Homo sapiens: one gene and its partners. The protein of the gene in region 2 interacts with the protein of the main gene of each other region in a biochemical or structural test. Each region holds a gene or a part of one and is shown on either strand. Other genes may lie near its edges.

Region 1 (3,745 bases), on a different chromosome or scaffold from region 2:
TTGCAGGTTTACATCTTCCCCAGAGTAACAGCTTTTCCTTTTCACATATACTTTCCTTACTGCCTTACTCAGTGGGTAAGTTAAAGGGCTGAAGGAGAGTTGAATGGTCCACAAGACTACCCTCTTAAGAGGTTTCACAAATTCCAAACAGTACCAGTGAGAGCAGCACTTCCACTGGGGCTAGGCTTGAGACCTAAAGGCAAGTATGAAATGCATATGCTACTTCACTCCCTCTCCCAACCCTTAATAATGAGGCAAAGCAAGAGCCTAGTGAAGGCCAATGCTAGGTTTACAAACTTACCCAGAAGCCTCTGCAAAGCTTCACAGGCTCCTCAGATGAAAATAACAGGAATCAATGGGGACTACGGCCAGACACTGGTTTGCCATTCTGTTCCTTTTAAGAAGTAACAGTGCTGCAAGGAAGTCCATGTCAGAAAGCCAACAGAAGGTGATTTCCACAACTTTGAACAGGTTGTTACAAGTATCAGCAAGAATGTGTCCTTTTCAGAAATAACAGTCAAATCAAAGAAGGTTAATAAAGGCTTTAATTTCATACACACAAAAAAACTCTATGCATAATTTAAAAAGGAAACAAAAACAAAGAAAAACCGTAAAGGATACAGAGGAACAGTTCTGCTAAAACACAGATAAAAGTGCCGCTCCATACAAAACATAAAGAATCAGAATCAAAAGTCACTCTGAACATAAAGAAAAAAAATCATCTCACAAATAATGTGGCCACAGCTGCCAGAAAACCTGGTAGTGGCTCAATTAGGCAAAGTGTAGGAATCTCATTTTTGTTTTTCTCTCCTTAAGTTTAAAGAAACAACAATGACAATAGGCCAGAGAAGTTAGGGAGGGAAAGAAAAGCTCAAAGGGAGGGAAACCTGGGGACAAGAGGTGTGCACACCCACATGTGGTCTCACTCTTCACACAGGCCCACTATTTTTGAAGTAGACCAGTTTAGTTGACTGTTCTTCTTTGTTCTGGCATCTGACTGGACCAACCTGGAACCTGGTCCAGACCCTCACCCACTCTATTCTTATGCCAATGGACATACCTATACTTTGAACCTCTGTACTTTTAAGAAAAGTCCAATGTTACAAAATCAAATGCTTATATTCAGACTGGCACACTTTTTAAATAAAAACTCCATACACCTCAGACATATAGCACACATGGAGACAACTTACTAATTGTGTGTAAGTATGATACAATGAATGAGACTGCCTGAAGTCTAGTAATCAAAGCATGCCATAAGGTGAATGATTGTGGTTAAACACAGCAAAATAATTGTCACAAAACTTTCAAGGCCTAACAAATTAGAATTTTCCAATAAAAAATATATATTTTTTCAGATGTTAATAAGACATATCAGTAGAGACAAAATTAGGATTTTGAAGTAATGCAATAAAAAGATGTTGGAGGGCAGAAGTCTATTTAGTTTTTGTATACACTTGCAAGAGTGCATTACTCAGTATAAAGCAAAATGGGGAGGAAAAAGACATCCATCCATTTTATTGGAACACTTTTATGTGACTTGAATCTGGTGTTAGGTTGTTGATTTTTCTAAAAATCTCCTATATATACAAAATCCATATGTACTTGGAGATCCAGCTGTTGCCCCCTGTTTAAAACAAAAGACCACCTCGGGGGGTCAATTAAATTAAAAAGGCCCTCCAACCACCCTAAATGGGATAACTAAGAGTATCTACTGCAGTCATTTCAGAGGACAGAGAAGGAAAATATTTTAATTTGCTTTAATATAACCTCTTTTCAGTAGATCACAAATGAGTTTACAAACTACTTTTTTTTCTCTTTAATTTAGGTGTTTGCAGATAATTTTCATTATATCCGTAGCTGTATGTGTGTATAGTTACATAATGGTAACTACACACGATACAGAAGAATCAGTAAATTCATGGATTATTTTGCTGAGGTTTTAAATTTTAAAGCCTCTGTTTCAGAATTTTATACTTGATCAAGGAGAAAAATAAATGTGTAGTCTAACATTTGCTTTCTGGAGTTAATTAACTGATCTGTAAGAACCACTGCATATGTCTTAAAATGTAAACATATTTACATTTGTTGTATTTGTTATTGAGCCTTTAAGGTTAGGCCCAGAATGAACAGACCATAGCAAGTAAACAAATAATTTTTAGAATCAAAGTATTAATAGAAGACCAGTTCATGGATTTGCTTATTCTATCCTGCTGAGACAAAACTCATGAGTGTGCACACACATGTGAATATATCCCTACGAAACAGTCTATCTTCTCATAGGCTTAAATTATAGTCATGGCTATTAAAGAAATTAACAGCATCCAGCCACATGCAACTTTCCAACCTTCAGTACTATTAGGTGATTAAAATCAACAAATATGAAGTTTAGTTCATTTTTCCCTTAAAATTCCAACAAAGATCAAAAGGTTGTATCTAGAACTAATTGCCATCAAGTTCCAATTCAATGTCATTTAAAGTAATGTAACCACACATTTGGTATTTTCAATAGGAAGGTTAATTAGGTATTGTGCAAACTGCCTGCAACGGAAGCACTCAGTCCTTATCTAACTTGTCCCTTCCTGGCCCCAACATGCTAACTGCCCCATCCCCAATTCTGGGCAAACTGATCACAATGTGCAAAAAATAATATATTATCTATTTATAATTTTAAAATATATACAGCCAGCTCAAAAACAACAACAAACCCCATCAACATAGTCCAGCTGAAATCTCCACTGGTAGTCAAAGAAGTAGATTAAAGGAGTAAAGGAAGGAGAAGGCTGATAGGGCCACAAGAATGGACAGACATCAAGTAAAATTTGAGTCCCAAACATGCAAGTACATGAGCAGTGAGATAACTTATATATTCCAATAACCTATTTTCAACAACTCCTGCCCAAGACATGAAGATCAAATCAGGTTTCTGAGGTAAGTGTACTTCTAAACCATACACACATGAAAGCTATGAAAGCAATTCAAATGAGGCTGCTTCATGAGGCAATCTAGACTTATGGCATTATTTCTACTTTTCTCCATGTTTTAATTGCAGCCTGCACTTTAAATCTTTCCCAATAATTTTTAACAGTGCCTCTCAAATGCAAAGACACGTAAAAGAATTAATAACTAGCCAAAGAATTTTATCACCGCTTCACTCATTTATAAGAAAACCAATTATTTCCAAGCAAAATCAAACCAAACCAAAGAGGCTCCTGGTAGAAATGAAACAAAACTTTAAAGCTAGTTTTAAAACAAATATTTTCCTCTGCTCTAAACTACTCTGGCGTTTTCTACCACTCTACCATTTTGGAACATTCATTACAATAAGGTATATAGGTAGATGGTAGGAGGCAAAGCATTTATCAGTAGTTGAGCAAAACTGCTGAGGCCATTTATAATTCAAAGAATGAAAACTTAGAATAGTTTACTACATTAGAATACATCCAAGTTCCAAGAGTAGGACTGGAGCTCTCTTAAGGCAATCTTTCAGAAAAGATGTTGCATCTTCTGTGATGATGGTTTGTGTTTTTTTTGTTTTTGTTTTCGTTTTTTTTAATGAGATGGAGTCTCACTCTGTCACTCAGACTGCAGTGCAATGATGCGATCTCAGCTCACTGCAACCTCTGCCTCCTGGGTTCAAGTGATTCTCTCATGTGATGGTGGGTTTTTAAATGTTTTTTCCTTCTGAAAACCTGATGTGGTTTTGTCCCTACCTCTGAGAACTAAAGAATAATCCCCTTGTTTA
Region 2 (3,745 bases):
AATGAGGCTCACAGAAGAGAAACATCAGCCTAAGTTTTGAGAAAGTTCTCAAAGAAGGATTCAGAGCCAGGCGGGGGGTCTGACAACATCCTGTCTGGCTAGGGAGGGGGCGGACCCGGGAGAGGGTGTGGCCGGGTGGGCCCCTTCACACCTGGCCCCCACAGCAAGGTGTTGGTTGCACCTTTCCCATATCCAGCTCCGACCCATTTGGCTGAGAAACAGGCTGCAGGGGATTGGGAAGGTGTCTGCTTTGCCCATCTGCTTAGCTGATGAAGAAAGTTTCTGCCAAACGTTTCCAGAGAGCCAGGCCCTGGAACTTGAGCTAGAAGTTAGAAGACTCGGGGCCTCAGTGTCCACAGCTTTGGGAATGAGAACAGCAAGCCCAGATTCACAAAAGCTGCCAGAGAGAGCAACGGTGGGGGCGCCTGGAGGGGCACGTACCAGTGTGGGTCCGGACATGGCCTTGTAGCAGCCAGGGCCTAGAGAAGGCCTTCCCGCAGGTTCCGCAGACGCAGGGCAGCGTGTGGCTTCGGATGTGCATCTTGAGGGCACCCAGGCTGAGGTATTCCTTGTTGCAGTATTTGCAGTTGAAGGCCTTTCGAGCCTGGAGATCCTTGGCCTCAGAGAGCTGGGCCAGCTGCTTGGGCACTTGGCCCAAGCCTGGGAAGGCAGCATAGGCCTCGGCCTCCAAGGAAGAGACTGAAGTAGAGGAGAAGGACGAAGGAGCCGGTGAGGGTGGGCTGGGGGGCTGGGAGCCTTTCCCACTGTCCTCATCTGACAGGGAGGTCAGCTCTGCCACCCTGGGACTCTCCTGGAGCCGAAGGGAGGCCCAGGCAATTGGCTGGGCTTGGGGCGCCAGGACAGAGTCCCAGATGAGCATTGGCAGCGAGGCGGTGGGGTTGAGGATCTCCGGAGGTGGGATGGCTGCCAGCAGGTGGGCCTGGTCGTAGGGCTGCTGGAAGGTAAACTCTGAGGGAGAAAAAGCAGAGTCAGGCGTTAATTAAATCATTCACTCAATCAACAAACATGAGCCCACCGCTGGCCAGGGGCTGGGTGGGGCCGATTCTCAATACATAATTAGATCAAAAAAATTATCCACAGGACAGACCAGGTTCCTGCCCTCCTCGCCCAGGTCACCCAATCTGAGTCTCTCACACGTAGGACCCCCAGTTGAAGGAGGTCATTTCCTGATCTCCCTCTCCTAAGTCCCCAGTCTCCAGCCTGAGGCCAGAACCCCATCATCCCAGCCCCGGAGCCACCACCCTGCCCCAATCCCCCTCCTCACACACATCTCGTCTCCCCACCCCTCCCCTCAACCCTCTGGACTCCGGACTCTCCCCAGCAGCGTCCAGAGGGCCCTCCTGACACAGGCCTCCTCTCCTTCCCCTCTTGCGGAGCTCCTCCGCCTCTCGCCGGCTACAAAGGCCCCCCAAGCTGAAGACCCCTGCCCTCTACACGGCACTCCCCCAACCACCCAGACAGATCCCCGGAACTGGGGACCCACTTGCCCGGTCTCCCGAGCCCGCAATGGTCCACAAAACATCCTGTGACTCGATCCTGGCTCAGGCAGGCCGCCTCCCTCAGGTGCCCCCCACGCAGCCTTCGCCTGTCTCCCCCAAACCTCCTGGAGCCCAGAACCCCTCCAACGCACCTGGATTAGAGTCCTGCAGCTCGCTGTAGTTAGGCTTCCGATTGGGGTCGGAGGGCTTCCTGACGAGGAAAGAGCGCGGCATAGTGGTCGAGGCACTGGGGTCGCCGATTCGCGCAGCAGTAGCGCAGAAGAACCACTCGCTAGGCCGTGCCGCGGCGCAATGAATGCAGCAGCGCCGCCAACTCCCTTAAGTACTCCGGGGGGGTGGTGGGGGGTGGGAGGGGCGGGGCCTTATCTGCCACGCCCCTTTGTCACCTCCGCGCCAATCGGAGGCTCGTCTCCGCCGAAGGCCACTCCCCGAGCAGGTGCGCCGGCTGCTGGCCGGGCTCGCGCCGCGTGGCGGTGAGAGCCCGGGCGGGGACTCCTCCGAGGCGGGGTTCGCTGGCGCAGCGCGGGTCGTCCCCGGTGCTGGGGCTGTCCGGGGCGGGACGTCGAGCGAAGCGAGGCCTCTGCGAGGTGGGACCCCGGCAGGACGCCGCGCGCCCACCGGCTCAGCGCCCGGTGGTCTGAGCGCTTCTGACGCCCCCTGGCGCTGCGCGCCGGCCGGGACACCTGACCTTCCGACGCCCGCCCCCGCCTCGGGCTTGGGAGGGGGCGGAAATTTCCTCCGCCCGGCTGGCGCCTGGAGAGCGTGGCATTGACGAGGGAAACGCACATCACTGGGGAGGAAGCGAGGAAAGGGACACCGCACGTGGCTCTCGGCGGCTTGAAATGCCACGGCCTTTTTGCAAAGCAGCCTGGCCCAGCTAGCCAAGAGCACCCGTTCCTTCCCTTATCCAGTGTTTACGGAGCGCCCAGCACGTGTGGGGCACTGTACCTGGGGCCAGGGCACAGCCCCGGACAGAACACTCAGAGCCTCTCCCGAAGGGTAGCTTCTGGTCCAGTGAGGGAGACAGACGAAGTAAACAGATAATTACAATGCAAAGGGAAGTGTGCTTTGGTGGGGGAGAGACGGGACGCGGCGACCGTTAAGAGGCGGGTCACCTGACAGGGGGTCGGGGTGACTTCCCAGAGGAAGTGAAGAATTATCAAGGGAAAAGGCCCGAGGGAAGAAGTGGCAACTGCTTCAGAGTAACTCCTAGAGAGCAGCTTCCAGGGATGGGGTGGGATGGGCATGCCCGGAGGGGTCAGATGTGCTGGGCCCCAGGGCCTCGTAGGAGTTTGGACTTTGCCTCAAGGGCACTGGGGAGCCACCGAAGGATTTTCAGCTGAGGAGGGACCTGGTTAGAGTTTCGTTGAAAAAGATCCCTGTAGGCTGGCGGGAGAAAGAAGGCATGGGCCGGGCGTGTCTCCTCACCCCGTGAAGATCCTCGATCCTGTGTCTAAAGGCTGTAACACGGCTCCATAGGGGCCCTGACTGAATGCATGTGGGGTGGGCCCAAGTGAGGGGCAGCTGCACCCCCACCCCAGCTTCCCTGGGAGGCGTACCAGGCCCGGGGGTGGCTCTGAAATAAACCTCACAGGTCTCACCGTTCTTGTTTCCACCTGTGAAGGAAGACTATAAAAACCTATAAGCACCCCACACCACCACCACCACCAACCTGAAGGGCAGAACTACTGTCTGTTTAGTCACTTGGTGCCGGGTGTGACAGCCGTGAACAAAATCGTCCTCCCCTGGTTCTAGCTGGAGAGCGGGCAGTAGGGTGGGGGACAGAGGCAGTAAGCAGTCATTAAGCGGAATACTCCCCGTCCCGTGTCAATTTAGCTCCAATCAGGATCCTTTGCTTGAAGCCAAAGTGAGGCCAGATCACCCCCTCCTCTGCTCAAACCCTCCCATGCGCCTGTCTCAGAGTAAAAGCCAAAGTCCTCTCCTCAGCCAACTCGGCCCCGCTGCTCTGACCCCAGCTGACATTGGCTTGAGCCTCTCTCCCTCCCCCATGCACAAGGATCCCACCCCCAGCCTTCCTTCTGTTCCTCCAACATCCCAGACCTTTCCCACCTTGGCACCTGCTGCTCTTCCTCCTCTCCCCTACGTCTCTTGCTCCTAGATCTTCACGCTGGCTTCCTTTCATTCTTTGTTTCAGCAGCAACTTCACTAACTGCTCAGCCTCGTTTAGTGAAGAGAGAAATGGCAAATTCAAGCCACAGTGAGCT
Region 3 (3,745 bases), on a different chromosome or scaffold from region 2:
CCCGGCAGACACAGCAGAAGAGTGAGTGGAGGATGCCCCGGCTTCGGGGCTTCTGGGAAGCTGCTGACTTCTGGTCACCTGAAGTAGGGAGGCACAAGTTGGAGGCTCGGTGCACACTGGCCTGCAGAATCCTGCATGTGTGCCCAGGTGTGAACCCCTGAGCCAGGAGGATCTTGCCGTGGCCCCTTCATCCAGACACACGAAGGCAGCTCCTGACTTTCTCTGAAACGCCCCTGTCAGGGCTCCACAATCAACTGCAAGGCTCCTGCAGCTCCCAGACAAATAGGTCTAGCAGGTATTAAGGCGCCCACATAGGGAGTGCGTGGCCTGGAGAAGGAGGTCCTGGGGTGCTCTCTCCCTGCCTCTCACAGCCTCCATGACTGCTGCTGATCAGCCCCATTGCGGTGCCTCCTGACCCCACCTTACCTGAGCACCCCTGCTCAGGACAGCCAGGGCCTGGGACCCAGGGCAGTCCACCCCTGCCCTCCCTCCATCCTCTCCACCCCCGTGGGTACGAAGTCCTCACTGCGGCTGGGCCCAGAGGCAGGGGTGCAGTCCCGCGGCCTGGGGCCAGTGTCCAGTGGCCATCTGTTTGCCCTGCCCCGCCCAGACCTCCGACCTGGAGCCCAGCAGCCTGATTGACAGATACCCCTCCCACCCCACCCCCCTCCGGCCCCCTGCAACTAGCCTTTCCACCTTGCCCTCAGTTCCGGGGCAGCCAGACCCAGGCGAGGGTGGGCAGACCTGGGGGCAGCGTCCAGATCCTGAGGTCCACACGGGGAAAAGGAGAAGACAGACCCCCCCACCCCGGCCCAGCCACGCTGGGGGACGCAGCCTCGTCGGGGCGGCGAGGCTTTGCGGGGTGGTGCGTGCCCACTAGGCGCACGACTCTCCCCGCGGGCGCCAAGCGACTCTTGGAAGTGCCGGCCGTCCTCTCTGTGCCTCCGAGGGGGTCGGCGCCTCCACGCGTGACGCGAAGTTTGTGGGGAACGTAGCTGTGTGTTGGCGGGAGATCCCTCCAAGCCTCCCCAGCCTGCTGTCACCTCGGCGCCCCCTCCCAAGACCCTACCGGACCGCAGCCCGGGGGGGTGGGGGTGGGGGGTGGGGCGGAGTCTCAGCGGGTGGCCCATAGGCGCCCTCCTCAGCTCCCCCATCTCCCAGCCCCATTGGCGCCAATGGTGGGGGGGCGCCCATGCACCACGCAATGCCTGCCAGGAAACCCCCGAAGAGTTCCCTCTCTATTCCTGCCTCAGTTTCCTCACCTCGAGCGAACAGGAGCGCCCCAAAGGCGCCAGGCCCCGCCCCGCGTCTCTGAGCCTCCTCTGAGTTCAAACTCTCTCCCTGCTCCCTCTCGGGCTGGGAGCTTCGGGCACAGCTAAGGCGGCCGCCCGGGGCGGCGGCGGCGGCTCCCCTGGGGAAGATCCCGGCCCCTTCTCTCCTCCCACGGCGCCCCGGCTTCGGCCCCCTCCCCGCAGCCCCGGTACCTTTGCCCCGCAGCGGGCCCCGAGCCTCCTCCTTGCTGATCTGAGTAATGACGGCCGAGCTGTCCATGGGGCCGGGCGCGCTCCGCTCCGGCCGGACTCTGGCCCGGGCGCCCGGCCTCCCCCCCGGCTGGGGCCGGAATCGGGGCGCGGGGGGGAGGGGAGGGGTGGGAGGGAGGGATCCCCGCGAGCTCCGGAGGGGAGGGGAGCCAGGTTCTAGGGGGGAGGGGGAGGGAGGGGGCGCGGAGGAAACTTTGTTACAACATGGAGTTTCCTTCCCGCGAGGCGGATGCAAACATGGAACCCAGGCGCCGTTTCAAGGCTCCCCCTTAAAAGGGCAACGGCTTCGGCGTGACCTGGACTCGGCTGCGGCTTTCGCCACTTCTGGGACCGGCGCGGCTAGGCGGACTGGGAGGCGGGCCGGGCCGGGTTCCTGCCGCGCTCCAGGGGGCGTCGCCTCCCTTCCTGCCGCCCGCCGGCGGGGCTGAGTCTCTGCGGCTGCGTGGCAGGCCCGGCACCCGGCTCACCGTTCCAGGCCGCCGAGCGCCCTCGGCCAAGGCCCGCCCGCCGGGAGCGCCCACGCCGGGGAGTGCCCGAGTGCGGCGCGGCTCCACCTCTGCGTTTTCTGAAGACCCGGGACTAGAGGCTTCTCGGTTTCCTCGTTGAGGACTTGGAGATAGCACTACCTCATCTGTAAAATGGGTCTTCTCTCCTGTCTGGTGGTCGCAGAGATCACCTCGCAAGGACGTCAAGAGCCAGCGAAGGCTCTGCTGGCCCGAAACAGCTGTGCAAACCTCAGAATCACGCTCTTGAATGGGACGGTCGCCGCCCCCCGCAGCCCCAGGGCGAGGTGCCCCCGGTCTGTAGGACGTGAAATTCTAACTCTCTGCCCTGGGAAAGCCCCCTGCCGACCTCTCCCCACGGCCCCACCCGGGGCCCCGCACGTCTACCCGCCGCGCACGGGCCACCGCGCGTTCCCGCCTGAAGTTTTCGTACGCGCTGTTCCTTTCGCGTAGCCAAATTCCACCGACCTCGAGGAAATGCCACCTTCTCCAGGGGCCTTCCCAGACCCCCTCCCCTGCCCGCGGTCGACGGCCGCCCTGTGATTACTGGGGGTGCGGTGGGAGTCACTGGACTCGCTGCCGATCCTAGGAGCCCAGCACGGCGCCGCACGCGGTGGGCCCAAAGCCCGACCGTGGGGGACCTCAAACCAGAGGCCCTCAAGGCCCGTTCCACCCGGCCTGTGGCGCAGTGCTGGGCACTTGGGAACGGAGGTCCCTGTCTTCTCGCTGCAAGCCCCTCCGTGGTGCGCGCCGTGGGTCTGCGGGTTGGTCTTTTTCCTCGTTTATGAAGTTCTTTTCACTCGTCGTTACTATTTTGTAAGTTCACCATTTAAAAATTAATAATGCCAAGCCCGACAAACACCCCTCGGCACTTCCTCCCCTCCCCCTCTCCCGCGGGCCTCCGTGGCGGGGCGGGGCGGGCGCGTCCTGTCCCGTCCGGCCGCCGGGTGCGACGCGGCGCACGTCCGCCAGGCCCTGCCGAGGGGGAGCCGGGGAGGGGAGGCCCCGCGCGGGGGCCGGGAGGGGAAGGGAGGGGAGCGGCGTCTGCCAGAAGGCGCGGCGGCTTCGTGCGCTGAGGCTGGGAGTAGGGGCGGGAGGGGACTGTCGGGGACTGATACCCCGGTCCCCGGGCTGGATCCCTCGGCCCTCCTCCTGCTCCTGGGTAGCCCACGGGGCGGCCACCATTGCGCTTCATCACCGTGATCGCCACACGCTGCTGGCGTTTTCCTAGGCCTGCTCTGGCTGCGCCCCCTAATCTCATTTACCCCTTAGAACGGCCTCCTTCTTAACCCATTTCACAGATGAGGAAACTGAGTTTCAAGAAAGGAAGCGACGTGCTTCGGGTCTACCGGCAAGGGCAAAGGCGGGATTCCAGCCTGGGAGCGGGACATCTGTCTCCCCTGCGGTCCGGCCCCCTGGGTGGGGCCTCGGCTTTATCTCCGGATGCGGGGCCCTCATGACCCCAAAAGGAAGCGTGTGGCGAGGGACTGAGTGGAGTCGTGGCCTCGCCCTTGGCCTGGGTTGGGTGGCGCGCTTTCCTCTCCCTCTGTGAAGGGGGCTGGTACCTGGCCGGCTGTCCCCACACCCACCATTCCCAGACGCGCCATCCTGAGCTCACAGGATTCCTCAGGAATCCCCCACCTCCTCCACCCCATCTTATCGCCACTTCAAGCCGTTGCCCGTGCAGTTCTTTTCCCAGGG

What was found.
Region 1: the proteins of SNAI1 (region 2) and USP37 form a complex in vitro, tested with the Homo sapiens proteins (2 studies listed by BioGRID, with this or other methods).
Region 3: the proteins of SNAI1 (region 2) and CTDSP1 form a complex in vitro, tested with the Homo sapiens proteins (2 studies listed by BioGRID, with this or other methods).

The regions. Positions count from the first base shown.
Region 1 is NC_000002.12:218,449,724-218,453,468, forward strand, and holds the end of USP37 (ubiquitin carboxyl-terminal hydrolase 37), read right to left. Parts: 3' UTR 528-3,745; downstream 1-527. UniProt on the Homo sapiens protein: Deubiquitinase that plays a role in different processes including cell cycle regulation, DNA replication or DNA damage response.
Region 2 is NC_000020.11:49,981,048-49,984,792, reverse strand, and holds the start of SNAI1 (zinc finger protein SNAI1), read right to left. Parts: upstream 1,814-3,745; 5' UTR 1,734-1,813; coding exon 1,652-1,733; intron 970-1,651; coding exon 442-969; intron 1-441. UniProt on the Homo sapiens protein: Involved in induction of the epithelial to mesenchymal transition (EMT), formation and maintenance of embryonic mesoderm, growth arrest, survival and cell migration.
Region 3 is NC_000002.12:218,397,897-218,401,641, reverse strand, and holds the start of CTDSP1 (carboxy-terminal domain RNA polymerase II polypeptide A small phosphatase 1), read right to left. Parts: upstream 1,775-3,745; 5' UTR 1,552-1,774; coding exon 1,485-1,551; intron 1,240-1,484; exon of another isoform or gene 1,155-1,239; coding exon of another isoform or gene 689-1,154; intron 79-688; coding exon 1-78. UniProt on the Homo sapiens protein: Preferentially catalyzes the dephosphorylation of 'Ser-5' within the tandem 7 residue repeats in the C-terminal domain (CTD) of the largest RNA polymerase II subunit POLR2A.